5 separate regions of the Homo sapiens genome follow, and regions 1, 2, 3 and 4 are each linked to region 5. Evidence: fine-mapped QTL for protein levels in blood plasma. Region 5 holds a variant in brackets. A gene starts in each other region. All regions are shown on their forward strands.

Evidence for each region. PIP is the posterior inclusion probability: the model's chance that the variant is causal. Protein levels are from antibody-based Olink assays in UK Biobank. Linkage for the fine-mapping came from a reference panel and not from the study's own genotypes, which makes the PIPs less certain.
Region 1: it holds the start of DKK1, and the variant in region 5 is fine-mapped to the plasma level of the DKK1 protein (UK Biobank, PIP above 0.99).
Region 2: it holds the start of CPXM1, and the variant in region 5 is fine-mapped to the plasma level of the CPXM1 protein (UK Biobank, PIP above 0.99).
Region 3: it holds the start of PDGFA, and the variant in region 5 is fine-mapped to the plasma level of the PDGFA protein (UK Biobank, PIP above 0.99).
Region 4: THPO starts here. The variant in region 5 is fine-mapped to the plasma level of the THPO protein (UK Biobank, PIP above 0.99).

Annotation. Positions count from the first base shown.
Region 1 is chr10:52,310,416-52,315,499 of GRCh38, forward strand. It overlaps DKK1 (dickkopf Wnt signaling pathway inhibitor 1), which reads left to right and starts at 3,866. Exons shown (of 4, transcript NM_012242.4): 1 at 3,866-4,262; 2 at 4,508-4,670. The coding sequence starts at 4,020. It overlaps PRKG1-AS1 (PRKG1 antisense RNA 1), which reads right to left and starts at 3,713. Exons shown (of 6, transcript NR_038277.1): 1 at 3,219-3,713; 2 at 2,983-3,070.
Region 2 is chr20:2,797,800-2,802,899 of GRCh38, forward strand. CPXM1 (carboxypeptidase X, M14 family member 1) reads right to left here and starts at 2,828. Exons shown (of 14, transcript NM_019609.5): 1 at 2,602-2,828; 2 at 927-1,094; 3 at 629-738; 4 at 353-492; 5 at 169-259. The coding sequence starts at 2,773. RefSeq lists enhancers at 410-1,397, 1,398-2,385, 2,386-3,371.
Region 3 is chr7:517,816-522,915 of GRCh38, forward strand. PDGFA (platelet derived growth factor subunit A) reads right to left here and starts at 2,031. Exons shown (of 6, transcript NM_033023.5): 1 at 1,124-2,031. The coding sequence starts at 1,186. It overlaps PDGFA-DT (PDGFA divergent transcript), which reads left to right and starts at 2,576. Exons shown (of 3, transcript NR_033963.1): 1 at 2,576-5,100. RefSeq lists enhancers at 823-1,744, 3,589-4,510 and silencers at 1,001-1,090, 1,551-1,690, 1,971-2,060, 2,161-2,500, 4,166-4,245 and 2 more.
Region 4 is chr3:184,375,128-184,380,223 of GRCh38, forward strand. It overlaps THPO (thrombopoietin), which reads right to left and starts at 3,080. Exons shown (of 6, transcript NM_000460.4): 1 at 2,948-3,080; 2 at 1,120-1,277; 3 at 761-888; 4 at 388-474. The coding sequence starts at 1,132. CHRD (chordin) reads left to right here and starts at 4,927. Exons shown (of 23, transcript NM_003741.4): 1 at 4,927-5,096.
Region 5 is chrX:100,702,412-100,707,511 of GRCh38, forward strand. SYTL4 (synaptotagmin like 4) reads right to left here. Exons shown (of 20, transcript NM_001370165.1): 3 at 2,400-2,475; 4 at 682-774. Among named protein-coding and RNA genes, the nearest start is that of SYTL4, 27 kb to the right of the region's middle. The variant T/C (reference allele first, on the strand shown) is at 2,992.

The DNA.
Region 1 (5,084 bases), not on the chromosome of region 5:
ACCGTAAGGAATGATATGTATGCGGTATTTTCCTAGCAAAGTAAAATTATATGGCAACAAATCTGCTTCTTTTGATTTAATGAAGAGAAAGAAGGAAAGAAGGGAAGGAGGGAGAGAAAAAAGAAAAGAGGAAAGAAGGGAATTTAAAATACAGCAGTAGACTGGGCGCGGTGTCTCACTCCTGTAATCCCAGCACTTTGGGAGGCCAAGGTGGGAGGATCACTTGAGCCTAAGAGTTTAAGACCAGCTCTGGCTAGCAACATAGTGAGACCCTGTTTCTACAAAAAAATTAAAAATTAGCCAGGTGTGGTGGCATGCAGCTGTAGTCCCAGCTACTTGGGGGTGAGGTGGAAGAACCGCTTGAGCCTGGGAGGTCAAGGCTGCAGTTAACCACGATTGCACCACTGTGCTCCAGCCTGAGCGACAGAATGAGATCCTGTCTCAAAAAATATATAAAAATATATAAAATAAAAAAAATCAGCAGTCACAAATAATAGAGATGGAAAAATAGTTGGTGAATAGCATGGAGTGTTTTGGAGTATATTTGTCTGTCTCCCTCATGGATGAAAAGGTTGAGAAATATTCTATGCATGGCATCCAGCACTTAAAATATAAAGAAGACATGTGTTAGCATGCTGTTCCCGAGTTATGAGGTTCAATTCCACGCTGATAAGCATATTTCACCTATTCAAAAATATAATACAAAATATTAAATTTGTTACATTAATTATGATCATATTTATACCAGACTGAATAGGAGGCAGGGTTCCCTACAGGACTAAATAAACTCAGTTTAATAAACTAAATTCATCTACTCTGGCTCCCACCTCCTCTGTCACCCAGCTGTAAGAGAGACTCAGACAATCACCAGAACCCTCTCTCCTTCCTAAGACATGTTGGTCACAGTTCCTGCACATTTTTCTTGCTCTCCATGACCTAGTATCTGCCAAAATATAATCGATGTTGGAAAAATTTTTACCCCCAGCCCCATGTAAGTATGTTGTATTTCCCCAACTAGTCACAGACTGAAAGCTGAGGACAAGAAGCCTGCCTTTCATATTGTGAGATATGCTCCCAATAATGGATACTCACCGAATATTAACTGGCTGCTGATGGAACAATGAGTTTTACTATACCTCTTTATCTACCTTGCACTCTTGTTGCCAATGAACAAACCACATCCTGGAAAGGATTTTCAAATGGAGAAAAAGTACTGAAAAAATAAATTTCCTCATTTGGAACAAAGGTTTGATTTGCTATGTACTTAGCCCTCTCTGAGGACCACCCATGTAATTTCTCCCCTGAATAATTTGTGAGGTTACCTCTCCTCTGCCCACTAAATGATTTGAAGGTAGATTATATGTGAACTCATCTTTTATCACACAATATCATGTATAATGCTTAGCACAAAGTAGGAACTCAGATATTGACCAACTCATTATTAGTTTTAAACTCATGACAACTTCAGGAGCAATGTGAAAGCTGAGGAAGGAGGTAGAAGCTAGCCCATTCTTGAAACTCTATGCTTGGTTTAGCTCTCCTAGCTCAATACCACAGATTCTGTCCAGACTCAGTGAATATTGAAACATAATAGACAAATGATATGTGTTCAGAGATCAAGGTTGAATTTATGCAACAAGCTTCTTTGTTATAACAGAATTTTCCTTTTGTTGATTAAATTGTTCCACTTTCTCTTCTTTTGCCCCAGGCAATGGATTTTTTTTGTGAAGCCAAGCTTTTAATGAACCAAGTTCATTAAATGTATTAATCATATACTATCTCTTCAGAAAAAAAGGCAAGAGATTGGCCTTTAGTGTGGCACAAATATATTTCTAGATTCAAAATATTTAAACAGGTTAATAGGACTAAAAAGAAACATTTTCAACCTTCTGATTGGCAGGCGGATTTTTCTCTACGTTTCAAAGTCATTCAAACTTAACACAGCTTGCAGATTTCCTAGTACACTGAAGGTGCTTAACGCATTGATTCCTGACAGGATAATTTCCTGGACAGATGGAATTTGGGATGGGAAGGACACTAATATAACTAGGGTACCATTCAAGAATTGTTTAGATGATCTTCTTAATATTACCTTTGAAACTGAAGGAACTAGAACACAGACCATAGTAAATTGTGTTTTAATTACTCCTTCTCCCAGTAAACTTTAGGATTTTTTTACTTTAAGATTGTCACTGGCTTTACTTGGTGGTGGCCCCAGTTCTGACTATAGTAGGTCAGCATGTGGAGTCATTATAGACAGCCTAAATCTATACAGCTTAGAGGAAGACAAAATAAATATATCTTACTCTTTTTTAATTCAATAGTGATTATTCAATCATCTCTCCCTTTTCCAAACTCACAAAACAGTTGCTTATTTTCTGACACTTATAATATCAACCTGTTTTTAAAAGAATTATGTATGCTTTTATATTTATTGCTATAATTTTATTGTTACTACATCTTTTATTATTACTGTAATTAGAATAAAGAGAACTTTATTATTTAAAATGAGAGCTGTGTCTCATAAATATTTGTATTCACTGTGCCCCTCCCCCCACCACCCATCTCACCAAAAAATTTAAAAAATAAAAATAAGGTAACAACCCAGAGGGCAGCCCAATGCCAGGGCTCTAGGCTTCCAATAAGTTTTTGTTGAATTAAATAGATCATTTCCCATTTATAAGCATGACATCATTCTTATACACCAGCCTTACTTTATTATATCCACACACCAATTTCAATGACGTCAAATTCACTTTCTAATTCACTTTCAGCTCTTCTTCTCCTCAAGGTTGTTTCTTTTCTCCCTAGAAAGGGTATTGCGTGGTCCCGTGCAAGGTAAGACTTGGGAGCAAACCCTGCATTCGGAAGCGTTGCGATGTGATATACTAATGAGGAAGTCAGGCGCTAAGCCCTAAGGGTTTCTTATTTCTCCACATTAGCCCACCACTGAGAAGGGAGAACCGGGGAAAGGCGACTGACCTGGCACGTTGGACCCTGTCCGCTTTGGTCCCGGCCACTTTGATCTCACGCGTCTGCCTAATCAAGTTCATCTACCGCCGCGATTGCCCTGATTCAAAGAACAACATTAAATGGTTTGATTATCGGATGGTCATTTCCCTCTTCCCTCCACCCCTGATCTAATTTCTAAACGCCAGTCTCTCGCCTCCCTCTCTAAACTTCCCATCAAAAGAGAATTAGCTCTTCTTCCTTCTTACCCTCGTTTGATGTGCAAATTTCCTTCTCTTTGCACATTTTTCTCGCAGTGGCGGGGGGAGGTGGGGGAGGAGGGCAACTGAAGGACCTCAAAGCCGGGGATCTAACTCAGATCTGCAAACTGCGACTCTAAAGGGTTAATGAGCAACTTGCACCCGCCACCTGGCCCTCTCAGAGGCGTCTTGCTAGAGCCATTGAATTACAGACCGGTTTGTATTTAATACTGAATATGACTTGTGTGCACAGTCAGCGAGTATTGGCATAAAGGAGAGGGGCAAAAAGTGCTTTTGCAGAGCCTATCACCCCTCGGCTCTGTAAAGTATTTCAGATCCGGATAATTCAACCCTTACTGCCAGGCAAGGGCACCCAAGTTCCCAGAGTTCCTGCTGCCGCCTGCATTTATTAAAGTCGTCTGCTATAACGCTCGCTGGTAGCCTTCACCCCGAAGGTGAGCCGGGCCAGCCGAGCGACTAAGCAAGGGAGGGGCGGGGTGAAGAGTGTCAAAGGCCCCCCTTCATGTACACAAACACACCCCCTCCCAGCCCCTCCCAGCGCTTTGAAATCCCATCCCGGCTTTGTTGTCTCCCTCCCAAGGGGCCGGAATGCTCCGGGCCCGCGGTATAAAGGCAGCCGCGGTGGCGGTGGCGGCGCAGAGCTCTGTGCTCCCTGCAGTCAGGACTCTGGGACCGCAGGGGGCTCCCGGACCCTGACTCTGCAGCCGAACCGGCACGGTTTCGTGGGGACCCAGGCTTGCAAAGTGACGGTCATTTTCTCTTTCTTTCTCCCTCTTGAGTCCTTCTGAGATGATGGCTCTGGGCGCAGCGGGAGCTACCCGGGTCTTTGTCGCGATGGTAGCGGCGGCTCTCGGCGGCCACCCTCTGCTGGGAGTGAGCGCCACCTTGAACTCGGTTCTCAATTCCAACGCTATCAAGAACCTGCCCCCACCGCTGGGCGGCGCTGCGGGGCACCCAGGCTCTGCAGTCAGCGCCGCGCCGGGAATCCTGTACCCGGGCGGGAATAAGTACCAGACCATTGACAACTACCAGGTGAGAGGGGTCGGGCACTCAGAGGATGCTCTGACCTTGAAAGGGTCCTATCTGGAGACGAGGGAGTAGAACGTGCTGAATGTGTGCGGTTCAGGGAGCATTTGGTAACCCTGCATTTGGGAGCAGTGGGCAGTAACAGGTTTTGGAGAGGTGGACAGATAAGGACTGTGATCAGCGCCCGGGTCCAAGAGGGCGGGTACCTGGACGTCTGGGTGCCTCACCCTCTCCCCGAACCCTTCCCACAGCCGTACCCGTGCGCAGAGGACGAGGAGTGCGGCACTGATGAGTACTGCGCTAGTCCCACCCGCGGAGGGGACGCAGGCGTGCAAATCTGTCTCGCCTGCAGGAAGCGCCGAAAACGCTGCATGCGTCACGCTATGTGCTGCCCCGGGAATTACTGCAAAAATGGTGAGTCCTGAAAGCTCCCTTTCACACTAAAACTGTCCAGCCTTTGAGCGTCTATGAATTGGGCGGGGGCGGGGGGTTGGGGGGGGTGGGGGGAGAAATCTCCGCCCTGAGAACACTGCGGCGCCACCTGCAAATGGGTGTTCAGCATGCAGGATTCCGCTGAAGTATCTTCATTGCAAGTGTTTAATCGGGAAGAAGAGAGAAGTTGGGAGGTCTCTGAGGTCCTTATCTTCCTCCGTGTCCCTCAATGATTCAATACAACGGTTCACCTCGTAGTGGACTCTTCCATAAAAATTTGTCTGGGGAGAACCTTGAGGTCAATTGAGAAGGGGGATGATGAGGAGGACGATGGGATCATACAGATATCAAAGAAACCAGCTTTGGCGTTCAGCTGTCCTTTTCATTTTTCTTATT
Region 2 (5,100 bases), not on the chromosome of region 5:
CTGGCTCCCAATGGTGCCTGCCGTGTGCCACCCTCTTGACAACAAGCCACACCCCCCTGGGAAGCCTAAGCTGGCGTCTATTCCTTGTCCTCAGAGGAGCCTCAGCCTAGCCTGGACTGGGTGCCCAACTCCCAGCATGGAGGCCCCAGCCACAGTGGGACCACTCACTGCGTCCATCCCACTGCTGTGGTTCCTACTTCCCCACCAGGTCCGACTGTCATTGCTGAACTGGACCTTGTATGATGTGACCCAGTCATACCTGGCAGGAGAGGTGGAGAGAGATCATCGGTGCCCCCAGGACTCCCACCCCAGTCCTTCTGTGACCTCCTGACCTAGGGTTAGTCTGCCTCACCTCCAGACAGAGTTCCTGCCCTGTGTGATAACACCCGAGAAGCGGGTGGGGTGCCCAGCGTCCACCTGAAACCATGGATCGGCGTCCTGCTCCTCAGCACACCAGGCTCCATCATATAGATCGCCGTCCTCCAGGCCTGACTGCAGACACAGGACATGGTGGTCAGGCCCAGTTGGACAGAGTGGGGCAGGCCAGGACAGAGAGGAGGCAGGAGAGAAGCTCCCAGGGGCTGCCTTCCCTACCCTGAGACCATGGCTCCGAGCCAGGATTACTGACCTGAATGTTGAGCCGTCCTCGGTGTGGTCCAAGACCAAAGGACTGGCTGCTGGATGCCTCAAGCCGGCTATCTGAAACTCGCAGGGACTCCAGACCCAAAGGAGGACAGCCTGGGGCGGGGATAGAACAGTGAGACAGGACCAGAGGGAGGGTAGCCAGGGCAGGTGGGAAGCTGAGCCTAAGGTTGCTCCTGCGCTAGGCAAGCAAGGGGCGTGCCGGTGCCCATGAGGCCAAGAGCTGTGCTGGTAAAGTGCCCCAGGGGCTGCAAGTCTGGGCTGGGCCCCTGGAGAGGAAGTACCTGTTTCTTGTTTCTCAGCGGGGTCGAGGGTCCCTGCTGGAGTGGGGGTCACAAGGGGCCCGGCAGTCACCAGTGGGGTGGGGCGAGTTAGAGTTAGCTTCTTCCGCTTCTTCATAATGACCTTTTTCTTCTTGATGACTCGAATCCGGACATGCTGTTCTGAGGTCCCTTGGGGTCCGAGAGGCACAGCATGGGGGAAAGGAAGAATGGTGAAACCCCGGATGGAAAGGTCTGCCAGCCCAAGAAGACATGTGAGCCCACAGCAGGCCACACCACCAGGATCTAACAGCCTTCACAGGACATCAAAGGCCTGCAATCTGACCCCAACCTGCCTCTCCAGTCACTTCCTTGGCTCCTCCTTCTCCTCCCTGATGTAACTACATGCTTGGCCAGCCTCCCCTGTGAACCTCTAATCCAATGGAGAGCTGCACCCAGCCTCTAGAAACTGTTCGGTTGCTCCAAAGAGCTGAGTCTGGCACTTTACCTCCGGGCCTCTGCACTAGCTATCCCCTCCCCTGTAATGCTACCCCTCGCCTCTGATTTTTTCACCTAATTCCCATTCTTCCTTTGCATCTCAGCCCAGATGCCTTTCCAAGGAGGCTTTCTTAGCTCCAGACTCAGCATCATGCCCCAAAACCCCTGTGCCGCTTCCATTGTTGTGTCTGCTCTCTGGGCTCAGATGGCCTGTCCTGGAATCCATGTCTGCCTGGGTGTCGAGGCTTTCAGGGCTGGGCCTGCCCGCCGGCCCTTCAGCACAAGGCTCTGCCCAGGCAGGTGCTGGGGGTACCCATCGAAGCTCCACAGCTGCCTCCAGAACAGGCTGCCCATTTCCGCATCTGGTGCCCCTGTGCCTTTGCCCGCCGCTTCCTTCTTGGCAGCCCTCTCTCTCTCTCTCTCTCCAGACTCCCCTGACTCGGGGACATCACCCTTCAAGACCCTCCTCCACTTGCCTCCTCTAGAAGCCCCTGAGTGCCCTCCGCTTGCGCTCCTCCTCTCCTATTCCACATCTGGAAAGCTGGGAGGTCGGGCTGCCTTCCTCTCCCGCTCTGCCCCATCCTCCCGGCAGCCTCAGCGAGGGGCTCTCCCTTCTTTCCTTTTGTTCTTTCTCTCCAGCCCTCGCCTTCAAACTCTCTCCTACGCAGTCTTGCTCTGCACCTTGAGAGCTTCTGCCCCTCTGTCTCCCCTCCTGCCAGTTCTGGCCTGTTTTGTCTTTGGTGAAAAGGGAAGGTTTGGGGCTTGGAAGAGGCAGCATCCCACTGGCGCCTGTCCTGGGACTGCTGACTAGGTCTGGCAGGGAACTGGGGCTGCCGAGTCAGCAGCCATTGCTCCCAGCAGGGAGTTGAGGGAGTGTGAGTGTGTATATGTGTGTGTGCACTGTGAGTGTGAGTGTGCGCGCGCGTGCACTGTGTGTGCGCGCACGCGCGTGTGAGTGTGCGTGTGTGTGCATGCGTGTGAATGCGCGCGCGTGTGAGTGCAAGTGTGCGCGTGTGTGAATGTGTGTGAGTGCGCGCGCGTGTGTGCGCGTGAGTGCGAGTGTGCGTGCGGGGTGAGTGTGCATGACTGTGAGTGTGCGTGGGTGTGCGTGTGCCCGCGTGTTAGGGAGGGATCGCCCCACGGGGCAGGAGAGCCGGGCAGTCGGCTTGCGGGGGAGCGGACCGTCGGTCGGGGAACTCACCGTTAGCTGTCTCCGCCGGCGGCTGTGCCGGGCTGCTATGCAGGGCCGGGGTCGAGCCTGGGACCTTGGTGGTCCCGGGCTGCGCGAGGCCCAGCACCGAGTTCCTGGGCGCCCCCAGAGCCGGGCCGACGGCCGGCGCGAAGGCGGCCAGGGCGAGCAGGAGCCCCCACATGGCGGGGATTGAGTGCCAGGGGCGCGCGGGCTACGGCGGGTGGCGGGTCGGTCTCTTCCTGCCGAGTGCGCCGAGCCCCCCGCCCCTTCCTGCCCCCCGCCCCTCCGCAGCCTCCTGCCCGCCCACAGCCCGCTGCCCGCCTCGGACCTCGGAGAGGAGGAGAGGGCCGGGAGGAGCGAGCGGGGCTGACCTCCAAGGGGCCGCCCCAAGTCTCAGGACCGCCGACTCTGCCCTTCCTCTCCGCCGTCTGGGGCCAACCCGCCTCGTTGGCGCGCTGCGCCTTTATAGTCTGCAAAGCCACACTGAAGAGACCAGAGATCACCTGGTGGCCATCAAGTCGACCAACAGGAGGCAAAGCCCCTTATCTGAGCAATTCAGAATGACACTTCCCTATTGTCTAAAGCCACATCTGGTACCAAGCTTCCGTCCCAAGAATTTATAAGTAACTAGAATTTCTGTACGTTTCCGGAATGAGTGCACGTTAAGACCCATTGTGCAAACTTTGCTGACATCAAGGCACCAAAATATCGACAAATGTAACCATTTACCATGACCTAAGTGACTAATGTGGTCCAAATTACCCTGCAGTTCCCCGCAGGGAGCTCAGTCCTCTCTTGCTGAAGCGCCTACTGCGCTCTGCTGCCTCGTCCTTTCCGTCTAATAAAACTTTCCTTTTCAGACCTACACGGTTGTTGATAAGTTCTTTTACCACCCGGGAGCCAACCACTTCCCGGTTCCGGAGCTCTGACACCTCGCCTGGCATCTTGGTGGCCCATACGGGGACTTCACTGGGATTTCCCTCTTCCTTTTTCTCTCTGCTTCCTTCCACGGTCTGGTTCTTTACTCTTTGGGGAACTGCCGGTCCCGGTGGAGGCAGCTCTTCTGTGGGATCCTGAAGCCCTAGAGAAGGGATACCTGGCTGTCCTTGCCCTTAGGGGTGAGGGACTGGCCAGGGCTCTTTTCTGTTTTCGGACTGCCAGTGAACCAGCTTGAGTTCTCGTTGGCAACTGACAGTTTCTGGCCAAGCGCCATCCCCCGGTATTACCCCAAGGCCAAGACAAAAGAGCTATTGCCTGTCAGAGTGGCAGGGCACTTTCATTTTAACACTCCATAAGCCTTGTCCTGGAAGCGGTGGATCTCAATTCTACACAGGGATGCCTCAGGGATCTTGTAGTTCCTTGTCTAAACCCAACTTCGGTTCAATTAATTCAGTTCCATCCAACTCGCCCTTGGATTGCCTCCTTAAAAATGGTCCCATTGGTCTCATTTTGACCCACAAACTCTTAAAAATAAGCATATAAGGCTGAGCACAATGGCTTATGCCTGTAACCCCAGCACTTTGGGAGGCCAAGGCAGGCAGATCACCTGAGGTCCGGAGTTAAAGACCGGGAGTCTACTAAAAATGCAAAACTTGGCCGGGCACAGTGACTCACACCTGTAATCCTAGCACTTTGGGAGGCCGAGGCGAGTGGATCACCTGAGGTCAGGAGTTCGAGATCAGCCTGGCCAACATGGCGAAACCCTGTCTCTACTAAAAATACAAAAAAAAAAAAAAAATCAGCCAGGGGGCTAATTATATGTGGCGGGCACATATAATCCCAGCTACTAGGGAGGCTGAGGCAGGAGAATCACTTGTACCCCGGGGGCGGAGGTTGCAGTGGGCCAAGATGGCGCCACAGCACTCCAGCCTGGGCGACACAGCAAGACTCTGTCTCAAAAAATACAAATAAAAAATAAATAAGAGTTTAAAAAGCATATCCTTTTTTCTAATATTGCTTGGGTTCAATACAAGCTCCCTAATCAATCAATTTGGCCAATTAATGAAACTTGGGATTGCAATGCTACTTTACAACTTAACTGATTTTTTGCCGGAACCTTGGAAAGGATTCAGAAGTCCCATATGTTCAGGTCTTTTTTGCTTTATCCCCAAATCCAAACCCAAAATTACATACAAATTGTCATGTATGCTTCCAAGGAACGTCCTCCCTTCCCGGTTCTGATGTCTTAGATGATCCTTCCTTTTGCCTATTACATCCTCCTCAACCTGCTCACTCTTCACCTACACCCTCTCCATCTGCTCCATTCCCTAGTCAATCTCCCACCCACATACCCAAATACTTTCTCCCCTTCACATACTCTCAGGGGAGTCACATATGCTACTAGTACAGAGTCCTCAGAAAAATCCCCAAAATATTTTGCCTCTCCCTAAGGTGGCTAATGAAGATTTGGGAACAAGCCAAGTTCATGTCCCTTTTCTGATCATGTCTGATCTTTTGCAAATTCAATCCAAGTTGGGTTCATTTAGTCAGGATCCCTCTAAGTTCATT
Region 3 (5,100 bases), not on the chromosome of region 5:
GCGAGGGGGCCGAAAGTTTCTGATTTAATAGTGAGATCAACATCTAGAAAGATCAAGTTAAAATGCGTCACGGGTCGGCGAGAGTCACGGCAGCCCTAACACTTTAATCCAGGCAGGGCTTAAATTTCACGCCCCGGAATCCCGGGCCGAACCCGTGGAGAGGTCTCTCCGTCTCACAAACACACGCACGCGCGCGCAGACACACACACGCGCACACACATCTCACTCACACACTCGCCCCACCCCGGGCTCCGGCCCAGCCGCGGCCCTAGCGCCGACTAAGACGCCCAAATCCAGCCGGCGGCCGGGAGAAGAAGCCTCCAGGGAAAGCGAGGGTTAAACTTCCACCTCGCGCAGCTCTCCGTGCCCTGCGGAGACCACCCTCACCTCTGGCCTCCCCCACTCCCCTCCCCGATTTTTAAGGAGAGTCGGGGGTCGCTGGGGAGCCTGAAGCACTAAGTTCCCACGACGGGGGCTGTGGAAAGTCATTCATCACAGCAAAGCTCCCGGGGATGGGGATGGGGATGGGGATGGGGGGGCGGGGACGCCGCGGTGGGAGGGTGCGGACGCCTGGCCCAGCCCCAGCTCGCCTCGCTCAGCCACCTGTAAGCAGGCCCGGGCGGGCGGGACTGCGCCGGCCCTGAGCCCCGCCGGGCTTGGGGACTGGGAACCGAGGGCTGCAGCTTGGCGCTGCCCACCCTGCCCGGCCAGGGGCTTCCGCAGCAGCCGCCCCTACCTATTTATCCGCCGCCCTTCTCTCCTCCCCAGGCTCCGCCGGCTCACACACACCCCCTTCCCCGCTCCCCGCACCCCGCTGCTGCAGCGCCCGCTGCGCCCCAGCTCCCCTTCCCCGGAGAGGACACTGCGCCCCCCGAAGTTTCTGCCCACTCGTCCACCTCGCTGCTCCCCGGTCCCCCCGAGGCAGAGCGACCGACGCAACACGCTGGAAACTCCCCACACACACTTAGGCATGGCAGAAAATAGAACCCAGTTGGGAAAATCTAAACATCGACCACCCTGGCAGGAACCAAAACGCTCTCTGCAGAGCCCGTGGCGCCCCAGCCGGCGGGGGGTGTGCGCCGGAGGAGCCGGCGCAGGGACGGGGCGCGGGGGCGGCACCAACCTCGGCCAGAACATGGGCGAGGTATCCGCAGCCGAGGAGCAGCAGGCAAGCCAAGGTCCTCATCGCGTCCCGAGGCGCTGGCTGCTCGGAGGAGAGGCGAGGCCGCGGGGCGGGCGCTCCAGCCGGTCTCCTGTGGCGGCGAAATTCAGTACCATCCCTTAGGGAGCGCGGCCCGGAGGAGGGTGGCGCGGGGAGCACGGAGCTGGCGGAGCGCGCCCGGCGCGAGCAGTGAGTGCGGAGAGGCAGGCAGCGCCAGCCAGGAGGAGGAGAAACAGGGAGTGCGCGCCCGCAGCGCGGGGAGCCTCCTGGGCCGCCGGGTAGGGGGTGGGGACGGAAGGGGCGGAGGGCGGGGGCTGGGCTTCTTCCTCGGTGCGTTCCCGGTGCTGGCCGCCGCCGCGCTCGCTCCCCGCGCTGGCTTCAGGAGCGACCCGGCCGGTAATTCTGCATATTTGCGGACATCAGCCCCAAGAAGAACTCCGGAGGGAGTCTGGGGCCGCCGCCGCCGCCGCCGCCACACCGATCACCTGCCTGGACGCCTGGCCCGGCCCCGGCTGCGAGCTGCGAGCCGCCCTGCGCGCCCACCGCCGGCCCCGCGCTCGCCTCCGGCCTCCTCTTGCAGCCGCCGCCCGGCCGGGCACAGCGCGGCCCAGCACCCCCTCCGCGGCGCGCCCTCGGCTCCGGCGCCGCGCTCCGCCCTCCGCTCGCCGGGGCCGGGCAGCGCCCGCGGCCGAGCCGCCTGGCAGCCACCACCCGCCGCCCGGGGCCTCGCTGCGCCGCCCGCGCGGGCCTGAGGGCGGGCGCAAGGCCGAGTCGGCGCCTCCGCCGCAGCCGCCGCCGGGAGAGGAGGAGGAGGAGTAGGCGCAGGCCCGGCTCGCCGGAGTTGGGCGGGCTCCGCAGGGCGCGCGTGTGGAGCCGGCCGGCGGCGGGGAGAGGGTTATAGCGCCGCCGCCGCGCCCCTCCCCCGCCCCCGCCCCCGCCCCCCCCCCCCGCCTCCCCCGGATTCCGGGCCTGGGACCCGCACCTCGGAAGCGCTCGGGGTTCGTGCGGACCCGGCAGGGCCCGGGCGCCGCCGCCGCGGCAGGGAGCACACACGCGCTCGCGCAAGCAGCTAAATCCATCAAAGCCCCGCGCCCGGCTCCGCGCCGGGGCTCCGCGCCCCTCCCTCGAGCTTGCCCACCCTCCAGTGCCAGCTGCAATCCTGCGGCACCGGGTGGGGAGGGAGGAGGCCGCCGCAGAAGCGCCGCCGTCGCCGGCTCGCCTCTCTCGGGCCCCAGCGGCGGCAGCGGGCAGCGCCCAGAGCTGCTGCGCCAAAAAGGGCCAGAGAGCCGGTCCCCGCCCCCGCCCCGGCGCTCCGGCCGCTCTCCACGGTTCGGATCCAGGGCCCCAGCCTTCCTCTCTCCATAAAAGGAGGGGGAGTCAGTCTTTGGGGAAGGAGGGGGGCGGGTTTGGGGCACTCACCTGGCGGCTGCCACGCGCCCCCGCCCAGGATCCGAGGCCTGGGGCATCTGAATGAGGACCCTCCACCCACATTTCCACTTGGGAGCGAGCTCCAGTCGGGGAAAGGGCCTGCAGCCCGCCTCGTCCCCACCCTGGGACCCCGCGCCCCCCAGTCCCCCACTCCCGCGCCGAAGGCAGGGCCGCGCCCTGAGCCGGGAAGTCGAGGGGATGGAAGGGAAAGGAGCCACCGGTGAGGGTCCCCCGGGTTCTGAGCCTCCCGCGTCGGGATCCGTGGGGCGCACAGAGCGCCACCTCCGGCCGAGGCGCAGCTCAGAGCGCGATGCGGGGGAGGAACGCGCGCGGAGGCCGAGGTCTGAGCGTGGCTAGACGGCTCCCACGCCGAGAAAGGGCGGGTGCGCCTGGGCTGGATGGATTTCGCCTCCCTAGACCAGGAGGGATTGGACCCTGACTACAGGTCCAGGTGCTCGTCAGTGCCCTGCCAGGGGGTCTACGCGTCCTGGTACCGGGTCCAGCGGGGTGGCGTGCTGTGCAGACCCCGAGGCTAGACGGCCTAGGCCCCTGGAGCCCAGGAGACGCTTCCTTGGGTGAGCAGCGGAGAATCCCGCCCGGCCCAGCCGTCACCCCCAACCCTGTCGATTAAACCCCTGCCCCCGTCGCGGTCGCCCTCCCTCCAGACAAAGGCCGTTAAGGCGCAGCCCCGCGGGCGGTCTTTCATCCCCAGCTAGGCCAGCTCTAGCATTTCAAAGGCCGAATCCGGAGAGCGCTTCGGGGGCTCTCCCCTTCCCCCAAATATTTGGGGAGCGACGCCTCTCCCTCCGCTCCCAGTGGGTCGCGTCTACACGCGCCCTTCCACACACCTGCAGGCCCCCTCCCCACGTCTCTCCCTTCCGTTGGCCGCAGCCCCACACCACGACCCCCGCGGTCAAGCATGCCCTCTGGGTGGTCAGGACCAAGCGGGACCGGGACAGAACCAGGGGAGCCTTGGAAACGTGGAGGAGCCCCTTAAAGCCAGGCCTTGTCCCTCCAGGGGGAACTTGCGGCTTGGGAGGGGACACCCACTGCATGGCTTCTGGAAAGAGCCGGACTCGCAGGGCCAGGACGCAGGCCGGACCCCGGCCTCATTCTTCGGCCAGTTATCCCGGAGTGGCGCGCATCCTGTCTTCCTGGGCCTCGGACTGCTCGCGCGCAGAGGGGGCCCGAGGACACCTCTGTGGGGTTAGAGGACTCGGTAAGACGGTGTGGAAGGCAAGGAGGAAGGTCGCGTTGTATTGGGGATGGGGTACCCGTCCCTCCCAGCTTGAGGGATCCTGGGGGTCCTCGCCGCCTCTGAGGGCCTAGATGGCTGCTTCCCTCGGCTCCCCTGCCCGGCCTGGAGCTACGGGTGCGCCCAGCTAGAGTTTAGGGCCACCTGGGGACGTGCAAGGGGCGCTGGAGCGAGGCGGGGGCTGGGGCGGGGCGTGGGTGCTTCACCCGCGGGGGACGCAGAGCTTAGGCGAAAGCGGTGCAGGCATCTCTCTAATCGCCGGCCGCTATTAAAAATAAAACCGCGACCCGTCGCCATGGCGACCACAACAACAGCGGCCGCGCGAGGGAGGCGAAAACTTGTGCAGCCGCGCGACAGCCGCCTTCTGGGGAGACTCGGGGCACGACGCACCCGGCGTGGGACTGGGACCCCCCTGCCCGGCCCCGCCACATTCTCCGCCGGATCCCCGGAAGACACAAGGAGACGTGGACCCCCACAGGCTTTTTTGGGGGGATTGGGCGTTGAAACCGCAGGGCTGACTTAACCAAGAGGTCACCGACTTGGATAAAAAACCCACGCCCGCGCGGACCCCCCTCCCCGGCCTTCGTTTCCATTCAAACTCCCAGCGTCCTCATTGCAGCCCCTGGGGAGGGGGACGGAGGGACGAGGTGGGTTTCAGGTGCTCGGCCCAGGAGGGGACGGTGCGACCCGGGCCCCGCCGGCGGGTTTTGCGCGCGGAGGCTGCGGCACCTGCCCCGCCCGCCCTGCCGCGATCCTTGCAGACGGGGGCGGTCACATGCTTCTTTCTGGCCAGGAATCGAGTTTCACTTCCAGCCGCTATTAGTCGGTTCACACAGTTCACTGCAAACATTTGATAATGAGGCTAAATATACTCCCGCGTCGGAGGAGGCGTGGGCGTCCCCGCCCAGGCCCGGGAGACAGAGGCGCTGACCCCGGGACAGAGCCTGGCTTTGTGCGGGAGGCAGACGCGCCCCGCGCGCCGCCCCCGAAACATTCGCACCCCATGCTGAGGCGCGCGTCTGGGAGTCCGTGGGCGCCCCGAGGTGAGCCCGGGGCCCCTGGCGGAAGCAGCGGGGAGCTCCCGGCGGGTGCGGGGAGGTGCTGGTGGGAAGCAAGGTGCACCTGGCGGCCTGGGATGTCCGGTCGCCCCCGGAGCCGGTGCATCCGGCCTCTCCCGGCGCGCCCCGACGTGCCCGCGGGCTCATAATTACCGTGAGTCAGGTGCCCCAAATAGGCCGAGCGAGGGGGGCCGTCG
Region 4 (5,096 bases), not on the chromosome of region 5:
TAGTCTTTCAGTGATTTGAATCTTGATTCAGTCTTTTGTTATTTTAGTGGTACTTCCCAGCTTTGTGTCATCTGTGGATGACATATGAGTCTTGCTTCTTCATGCCAATTTAAGAAGACTGAACGGGAATAGGTCAAAGGCATGGCCATGAGCGATTTCTCTCCAGCTTTTCATGGTGTTCAGCTTCAAATCTATTCACATATTGGACCTGCAAGCCATCATCTTATCCACAGGCTATCATCATAGGTGAATGTAGATTGGGTTAGGGTGGCCAAGCTGAAGGTGAGATATTTTTAAAAAGCTCAAGAATGTTGGAGAATCCATGGGAAGCAGTGGGAAACTGAAGACAGGACTTAGGGAAGCCAAGGTTAGGGATGGCTTTCTTACCATCTGGGTTTTCCATTCTCCCAAGCTAAAGTCCACAGCAGGCAGCAGGACAGGTGTAGGCAAAGGGTGAACCTCTGGGCACTGGCTCTGTTGAAAAAGATTGGTGGGGGGAGAAGGGAGCTGAAATAGAGAGAGCTATGGTAGCCTAATAAGCAGGCTAGTCCTCCATGAGTACTATCTCTAGACGAGAGCTTTTAAATGCGGGCTGTATTGTGAAGAATAATCCTTGTCAGAGAGTGTGATCAGTAGGTGGGGACAATATGGGAAGAATAGTCATTGGGTCAAGGAGTTAGAGGAAGTGATGGTGTCTTCCTGGGAGTATGGGTGTCTTACCAGTTACGCGGATAAAGGGGATAATGTTGGGAGTTCTCACCAGTCTGCTGTGAAGGACATGGGAGTCACGAAGCAGTTTACTGAGGACTCGGAGGTCACAAGCAGGAGGAGCCGGGCTGGACAGCGTTAGCCTTGCAGTTAGGAGAAGCATGACCACGAGGAGCAATTCTTAGATGAGGAGAGGTGAGGTTGAAAGATGAGGAGGAAATCATTGTCAGCTGGTATTCCAGGAATTCCCATTCAGGACCCAGACCTGAAACCCAGGGAATCCACCCCTCAGACCCCTTATTTTTGGGAGAATGGGTTCCCCCAGCTTCCTGCCCCCTGCAGCGTGTCTCCTTTCTCTCTCCCCTTCTGTCATGTTTCCATATGGCCCTAGCCCCTCAGGTGTGTTCTCACCAGTCAGCTCCATTCTGGCCGGGGTGTCTGGCTGGCGTGGCTCCCTGTTTGGGGCCTCTCCCCTGAATCCTTCCTGGGGCCATGGAGGCGGCTTAGGCTCTTGCACTTCTGGGCAGAGTAGGGTGGGGCAAAGGCGGGCCAAGGGTGAAGAATCTATCCTGAAAGTAGCAAGAAGAGTGAACATTTAACCAAGTTTCTAGGAAGAGACTGCCTGGCAGGGTGAACAGATGCTGGGGAGGGCTTGAGATGCTGACCAGCCTGGAACTGCCAAAGCCCTGAATTCTCTCACATTTTCTTGTGATGAAAGCATATGGTGTGCCGGGTGCAGTGGCTCATGCCTGTAATCCCAGCACTTTGGGAGTCCAAGGCGGGTGGATCACCTGAGGTCAGGAGTTCGCCACCAGCCTCACTAACATGGTGAAACCCCGGCTCTACGAAATACAAAAAAACTAGCAGGGTGTGGTGGTTCATGCCTGTAATCCAAGCTACTTGGGAGGCTGAGACAGGAGAATCGCTTGTACCTGGGAGGCGGAGGTTGTGGTGAGCCGAGATCGCACCATTGCACTCCAGCCTGGGCAATAAGAGTGAAACTCCGTCTCAAAAAAAAAAAAGAAAGAAAGAAAGAAAGAAAGAAAGCAAGAAAGCATATGGTGTCTCCTTTTTGTCAGGACTCCTCAGTGAATCGGACATGGATTTGGTGCCACCTACCCCTGCTGAGAGCAGCAGGACATGATATGTATACACACATATCTTAATTAGCCTTAAATTCTGAGCAACCTTGGTTGTTAGGTCAGAGAAAATCTGGGATGGGGATAGAGAAGGAAAGTATTGTGGCTTCAGCCTGGAGAAGAGAGTGGAAAATGGGATGCAGGGCCTGGGTGAGGAACTGGCAAACGGGCGCAATATGTTGAGGGGTAACTTCTGCGGTGGGGAGTGGGGCTGGGGAGGGGAACTGCACAAAGCTGTAACTGGGACCACTAGAGGTCAGGATTAAAAGGCGGTATGGGAGAAATTAACCTCTATTCTTTCCCTATCTACCCCCACACATAAAGCCACTGGAGCTTTTCTCTGGACTCCAAGTCCTGAAATACTCCATTATCTGAGGCCAAGAGATGGGCTAACAGTTCTGGGACTTCCTTCCTGAGACCAGCTGCCCAGGAACGGGCACCTGCTGGGTGATGCCCACCTTAGGGGCTTACCTTGTCTTAGGCGCCCACTAACATATCTGTCTCATAGCTCACACCTGCCTCCCTGCCCCCTTGGCAGAACCCCTTCCGGTTCCTTCACAGGACCCCCCACATGGCTTCCTCCTCCTTTCACAAGTTGTGCAAAGAGGCTTGCACCTGATTCAATATTGGGATTTCCTGTAGGTCTGTCAACATGAGTGGGCCCTCCTCCCATTACCCTCTCCTTGCGCCCTGGCTTGCCTGGCCCAGCTTCCCCAGCACCAGATTCAGAACCTTAAGCTAACGAGGAATGACCAGCTAAGAATGGGGATTGGGGCTGTGTCCATCTTACTACTGTGTTTGCTAAGCCCTAAGTGCAGCTCCCTCTCTTATTTTCTCCCTGGGCTCATGTCCCCTTTCCTTAGGGCCAGCCAGGGCTGTGCTGTATTCCACCAAGTAAGTGATCAGTCCCTCAGAAACCAGCACCCCACCCCCTACCCCTGCTCTGCCCTGCTCCTCCCATTCTGGGAAGGCTACACTCTTCTCGACAAAGGTCAGTGCCTGTAGGTTCCAGTTTGCCTGCCCCTCCCCCAGCTGGGAGCCCATTTCTCTTTGCTGTCCTTTCTACCCTCACATAACCCCACACCCTGCTGGCCACTCACCGGGTGGAGAAGGGCTCCAGGACCCAAGTGCACAGCAGGCAGCCCTCTGGGGAGCAGATGGGTAGGAAGACATGTGGCGGTGGGGCACAGCCCCTCCACAGCAGCAGGTCATACGCCTGCCTGGGCCACTTCTGCCCAATCAGAGAAGGGAGCCACCAGACACTGGTGAAGGCCCCCGGAAGTGACGCCTTCTCTTCCCTGGAGCCCCTGCCTGGACCAGGGTCCACTCCTCCACCCACACACACCACGGAGAAGATTTGGATAGGGGGATCCATCTTTTCCTGGACATGGGCAACCTGGGACCTGGAGGGGGACAGGAGCAGAAGTTTTTTTCCAGGAGGAATCTGGCAGGACATTTGTGTTGCTGGGGAAGAAGCACAGAGGTCTTGTTTAAGATTGGTGGGGTTTTCACTCCCTGGCTATCCAAATTTCTTTTCCCTGGACATCATACCTGCTGCTGAAATCCAACAGGATGCTTGCTTTCCTGCTTTTCTTTCTGTAATCCCCTAGGGAGTCCTATCTTGTCATTCCCCCTTTCGAAGTGGGAACACGGATATTGCCCACATGAGAGAAATCTCCTGTTATGGGTTGGTGTTATGGGGAAAGGGTTTGGACGGGTTGAGTGGACTGTCAGGTGCGGGGCACATGTATGTGCGCACACGTGCACTGGGTTAAGCCTGAGCTTAGGTGCTCGTCTGCTGGGGTCCAGTGGCTTAGATGGCTACACACACAGACCTCTGTGCCCAGGGCCCTCCTTTGCTTGTTCTGTCTCCGTCTTCCATCTCCTACCGTTCCACATGTGACAAGAGGAATAACCAGGCCCATGTGTCCCTGTCTTAGGAAAGACAGCTGCTGGACCTCCCCCGCAAATACCTCCCTGCTGGCCCCCCTTTTCCTTTGGCCCTGGCTCTAGCTCCTTTGCTTTCTTCCCAGTCCCAGTCTCCCCACAGTCTCTGTCCTCAGGGGCTTCCTGGCCTGACCTTGATCCCATCATCCCCCTGTCCCCCAGAACTTCCTCAGGCTCTCTCCTGTTCCTCCTCCCCAAGGATGGGCATGTCTGCTGAGAAGTGTGGCCTAGATCCTGGAATTTTCCCGTCCAGCCAGACGAGATGTCTCCCAAGATTAGGAAGGAGGGTGCTGGGATAGCTGGGAGGATAGTGGGTGTGTGTGGGAGGGAGAGACAGGAGACAGGGAGGCAGGCATGACCAGGGAACCAAGAGAAAGGAGGCTGGGAGTGGGCTGGAGAGGCAGAGGGTCCCTTGGGTGAAGGAAGGGGGTGAGAAAGCAAGAGGGGACTGTCGAATGCGCCTGAGGATAAGTTACAATGAGAGGGAGATACTGTCACTCCACAGAAGGGGGAATGCTGCCGGTTTCTGGCTAGGTCCCTGTCCTGGGTAACACAAGAATGAGGAGCGACCTCAGAGAGAAGGTAGGGAGGCAGGCTAGGCAGTGAGAGAGGGTGGTGAGGGTTTGGGGGGCGCTGTGGGCCCAGGCAGGGGGAGATCGGCTGATGGACCTTTCCTGTACGTTGTCATCTTTAAAGACAAGTCTTCATCCTTCGGGCGGAACCGGGTCCTCGCTCACAGAGCGGTCCAGGCCTCAGGCCTAGCCTCTGCCCCTCCCTAGCCTGAGGCTCCCTTCCTGGGCTGGACACCGACCTCCTGGTCCAGCCGCCCTGTGGCCGCCAGCAGCGGGGGGCTCCGGGCCCGCCTCTCCTCCCCCTCTTCGCGCCCCCTGGTCCCTCCCCTCCCCCTCCCCCGCTCCCCCTTCCCCTCCCGCCCCTCCCTCCTCCCCTGCCCGGTCCCAGCCCCTCCCTCCCCTCCCCCACCCGCGATCCGGGCCGCTGCTGCTGGGTCGGACCCCCCGGGCTCAGCCCGGCCCCTCGCCGAGCTGCCGCCGCCGCCCCGTTTGCTGAGGAGGAGGCCCCCGGCCGGGGCGTCGGGCGCGGGGCATAAAACGGGCCGGAGCCGGCGCCCGGGGCAGTAGAGCCGCGTACGGCCCGGGTCAGCGCCCGCCCGCCCGCGCTCCTCCCGGCCGCTCCTCCCGCCCCGCCCGGCCCGGCGCCGACTCTGCGGCCGCCCGACGAGCCCCTCGCGGCACTGCCCCGGCCCCGGCCCCGGCCCCGGCCCCCTCCCGCCGCACCGCCCCC
Region 5 (5,100 bases):
CTCAATCATCCAATTTTTAATACTTTAAATGTTCTCAAATCTCAAGCCTATTAACCCAAATAACCAGGCAGCTGGTCTCTGCAGTGAAGGAGAAAAGCACATGAAGGCTCCTGCCAGTTTAAGCCCAGTTGTCTATTCCTAACCAGCTTCCATTCTCCCAGGAGTCAGTCAGCTTTCTGCTATACTTCAAAACTTCCACCCCCTACTCTATCTCTCAAAGTTCTTATCATACTAGCACTCTAGCACTACCTCCAGGATATCTTTCCCAAATTCATGAACACTTGTTGAGCACTACGCTGACAGGCATTGTGTAAAGTGCTGGGGATACAAAGATGAGTAAGGCACAGTTCCTACCCTTATGAAAATCACAGAGTAGCAGGGGAGACAGACACACATAAATACAGTACAACGCATTAAGTGCTATCAGAGGGATTATAAGGGACTATAAATTAAGTGCTATGAGAACTTAGGGAAGAAAGCAACTCATTCTATCTTGCATAGAGAGAGGAAAGAGAGCAGTATACATGGGAAATTTCACAGAAGAGGTGGATTTTGCCTTATCAGAGGACAAATTTCCTGGTAGGGAAGAATGGTAGGAAAGATAGTTTGGGACCAGATTACATAACTCTTAAAAACTTTTTTAAAATTTTAAGAATTTTGGCTCAGCATGGAGGCTCTCACCTGTAATCCCAGCACTTTGGGAGGCTGAGGCAGGAGGATCTCTTGAGCCTAGGAGTTCAAGACCAGCCTGGGCAACACAGGGCGACTCAGTCTCTACAAAAAGAAAAATCAAAACTTAGCTAGCCATGATGGTACACGGCTGCATTCCCAGCTACTCGGGAGGCTGAAGTGGGAGGATTGTTTGAGCCTGTGAGGTTGAGGCTACAGTGAGCTGAGATCACGCCATCACATGTGGCCCACTCTAGCCTGGGCAACAAAGCAAGATCCTGTCTGGAAAAAATTTTTTTTAATTTTAAAATTTACTGCATAGACAATAGAAATCCACCAAACATCTCTGATGTTGCTTTTTGATGCTGGGAAATCACATGATGAAATTCACTTTACAAAGACATATTATAGCTATATCGCTCTAGTTATAATATGAAAGACTGATTTAGAGGACAAATCAGAGGACAATTTGGTAGTACATACATTTAAAATAGGCATATACTTAACCAAGCAATATGACTTCTAAGAATTTACCTAATAGAAATATTCATACAAATGCACAAGCAAGAGTATATGCACAAGACTATTACTGCAACATTATTTGTAAGAACAGAAACAGTTATTTAACATAGGAATCATTAAACAAAATAATATGTCCCCATAATGGAACATTATGTCGCCATTAAAAATGTGGTAGATACACACGTACTGACATAAAAATATGGCCATGAGTGAAAAAGTAGTTGTAGGACAATAAAAAATGATCTTTTATAAAGAATTTATCTAAATATTTGTATATGCAAAGAGAAAGGTCTAGAACAAAAGCCACTATCATTGGTTTCCCTTGGGGAGTAGAATTGGGAAGGGGCAACTTTCACTTTTTACTTCACATAGTTCTAATTTGTTTTTACATATATCTTCCATTTATATCTCAAAAAAGAAAACAATACAAATGAGGCAGAGATATTATTACAATACTGCAGCAAAAGACAATCTAGATTTACTAACTGTGCCTCTAAACAATTAGACCAGTCATTTTATTTTTCATTTCATTTTATTTTTCATTTTTAGAGACAGAGTTTCACTATGTTGCCCAGCCTGGACTCAAATTCCTGGGCTCAAGTGATCTTCCTGCCTCAGCCTCCCAAGTAGCTGGAACTATAGACAGAGCCACCGTGCCCAGCAGAAGTCATTTTATTTCTGACTCTTTGGTTTCTCATCTACAAAACGACCCACCTCAAACGTTGTTTAAAAAATTAAATAATGTGTGTTAAAGGGCCAATCACAATGTTTGGAGTACAAATACTTGCTGAATCTTCTAAAATGATAAAGGCCTGAGCCAGGCAGCAAGAAAAAACAGAATAGGTTTGAGAAGTAGAATTGACAGAATAGGGAGACTGACTGAGCAGAGAGGATGAAGAAGGTGAAGTCAAAGATGCCTAGTTCACAGTCAAGATTAAACAACTGACTGGCTAGTGACAGCCCTCATAGCAATAGAAGATGTAAGGAAAGAAACAGGTTTGGAAGTAAGGCAAAAAGTTTTGTTTTAACCCTATTAAGTTAGTGTTGCATACTTGATATCCAGGTAACTGGGCCCAGGAAATAGTTGGAGACACAGGGCTGGACCTCAGGAAGAAAAAATGTATCTGATAATATACACTTGGTAGTCATGGGAGTCAAAGAGCCCAAGGTAGACAGAGAGTGAAAAAGGAAATGAGAATCACACTTACCTTCTCTCCTCTCCTTTGAAACTAGACAACACGCCTCTTTCACTTTATTTTTTCTTTTTCTTTTTTTACTAGTTCCCTACAAAACAGTGGAGAACATAAACAACACGGCAAAGCTATACAGGTTCCTGAAACCTCAATATTTCCTCAACTTGTATATTTCCTGGTCTTTATTGAACTATAAGATGTTAAGCCTCTTGCACACACCCTTTCTTAGACAGTCTTGAGGAAGTGTTCTTAGTTCTTATCCCCAAGGAGAATATATACCCTCCATGAAAACAAGGACTTTTTCAATCTTCTCCTCTGTATCTGCCCTAGCACTTAATGCAATATCTGGTACGCAATTTTGCATATGCTGCCAATATTGCAATCACTGTCATTGTCACCCCAACAGTATCTTTTATTGAGAATTGACTATACGCCAAACAAGTACCTAACATATATTAACTAATTTAATCCTTGCCACAATACCAAGAATGAGTGACTATTATTACCCCCATTGTATAGATTAGGATTCAGGAGAGGTTAGGCTAACTTGCCCAAGAATAAAGAGCAAGTAAGTGAAATTGCAGGGATTCAAGCCCAGGCAATCTGA[T/C]ACCAGAGTTGGTGCTCTACAGGCTCAGTCTAGGCAGAATTATAACCAAAGCAACTATAAAGTACTAAACAGACAAATCAAAAGCATTGTGGAAATGAATTCCCATATGTGTGATTACGGCTGAAACACTGCGCAAAAAAATCAGTGGCTCCTGGATAAAAGAGGTATTATCAGTTACCTGTCAGCTAAAAAGCAAGGATAGCACAGGCACACTAGAAATGAGAACCATATCAGATTTAAAAACTGGTGCTTGTGGAGAGGCAGCAGAATATTGTGATGAGAAAGGCACGTTGGCATAATAATGAGACCAAGTAATATCAAAATCCAGGGAAGTAAGAAGATCCTTGAGGAAATAAAGATAGTATCTTAAGAAAATGGAACTACCAATATTGTACATCTGCCCTTTCTTTTTCATTTATGGACCTGACCAACCAGAACTGCCCCCTCTGAAATCTTAAATTCAAGAATTCCCACTTTCCAACCACAGCTCACTCCTGCTCTATCTGTTCTTCAACTTTATCAAGACCACAGTCTCTTGAGCCCCACATTGTCTCTTGGTCCACTTGCCTTCTGCTGATCTATCTTCCCCCCATACCCATCCTGGACTCCAGATGGCTCAACATTTGAACCACTCTCACCAGTACCTTCCATATCCATATACCTTCATCCCTCTGCCACAACTGCCCATGAAAATCCCAAACCTGTGCTAATGCTCTAGCCTGCCTTGTCTGCTCCTATACCCAGGTTCTACATAATTCCTGGTCTACAACCTCAGCTGAACCCTCATTGTCACCCATAAATTCTGTTACTTATGCTTGTTCAATTCCTTTACCTAGTCCCTTTGGGTTCTATTCAAGCCTTCATTCATCTCACACTCCCACTTCCCTTCCCTCCAGTCCCATCAGACATGCTTGTCTCATACTTGTAAAAAGGTTTTTGTAAGACCATCAGACATGGACTCTATCAGCTCCCTGCCTCCTCTTCCCCATCACTTGCCAATCTGACTCCTTTCAGAAAAGCCATATCCCACCCCAAGCCCCACCTTCCACCATAGGTTGCTGTTGTTTCCAACACTAACCCTGTTAACAGCCAGCTTGTTTGCAATGGGATCTTGCAGAATCAGTAATGAGGAGCAGAAAACAAATTAAGAACAAAAATTAAAAGGCAAGAAGACAAAGGTAAGTGCAGAAAAAACTGAGACAAAGAGAAAACAAAAGGTAAAATGGTAAAAACAAGTTCAAGTATATCAATGAATATGAAACTCATATATGAGCAAAATTCACCCTTTGAAATACAGGAATTAACAGACTGGATAAAAGGAAAAAATCCAGTTATGTGCCATTTATGAGAGACACATCTAAAACATAAATTGAAGGGAAAATTGAAAGTAAAAAGATAGGAAAAGATATACCAGGTAAATGCTAGCCAAAAGAAAGCTGAGGTAGCTATATTAATATCTAAAAGTAAAAAAGACAATAAAAGCTTTATAAAGGTTAGATAAGATCACTACATAGAGATAATAAATATGCACCCACTAATAAAACATCACTAAATATACAAAGGAACAAAAGAGAGAAATTGAAAAATCAACCATCAAAATGAGAGGTTAACATATACTTCTTTGTTGTTGCAATTATGAATGGTACAAGCAGATACAAACTAGTAAATATATAGACAAGTTGAACAACAAAATGAGCTTGATTTAATAGGAATACAAAAAAAGTCTATATCCAACTGGAGAATTACATTATTTTCAAGCACATATAGAATATTTACTCCCAAAACTGACCATGTACTAGGCTGTAATGCAAGTCTGCATAATTTTTTTAAAAAATCCTTCCCATACAGACCAGTCTCTGACTTCGAGGAAATTAAATTAAATAAGAAATCAATTTAAAATAAGGTAATTTCTTATCACAATACTTTTTTTTAAAATTTATAAAGACACTTCTAAATAACCCACATGTCAAAGAAGAGATCATAATGGTACTAAATCTATCCTTAACATCTTAGAGGAAAATACCTGCCTCCTACCTCACTACCATCACTACTCCCCATACTATGGCATAGAATGTTCTCTAGAAATTCAAAAAGGAAAATATGAAAGAA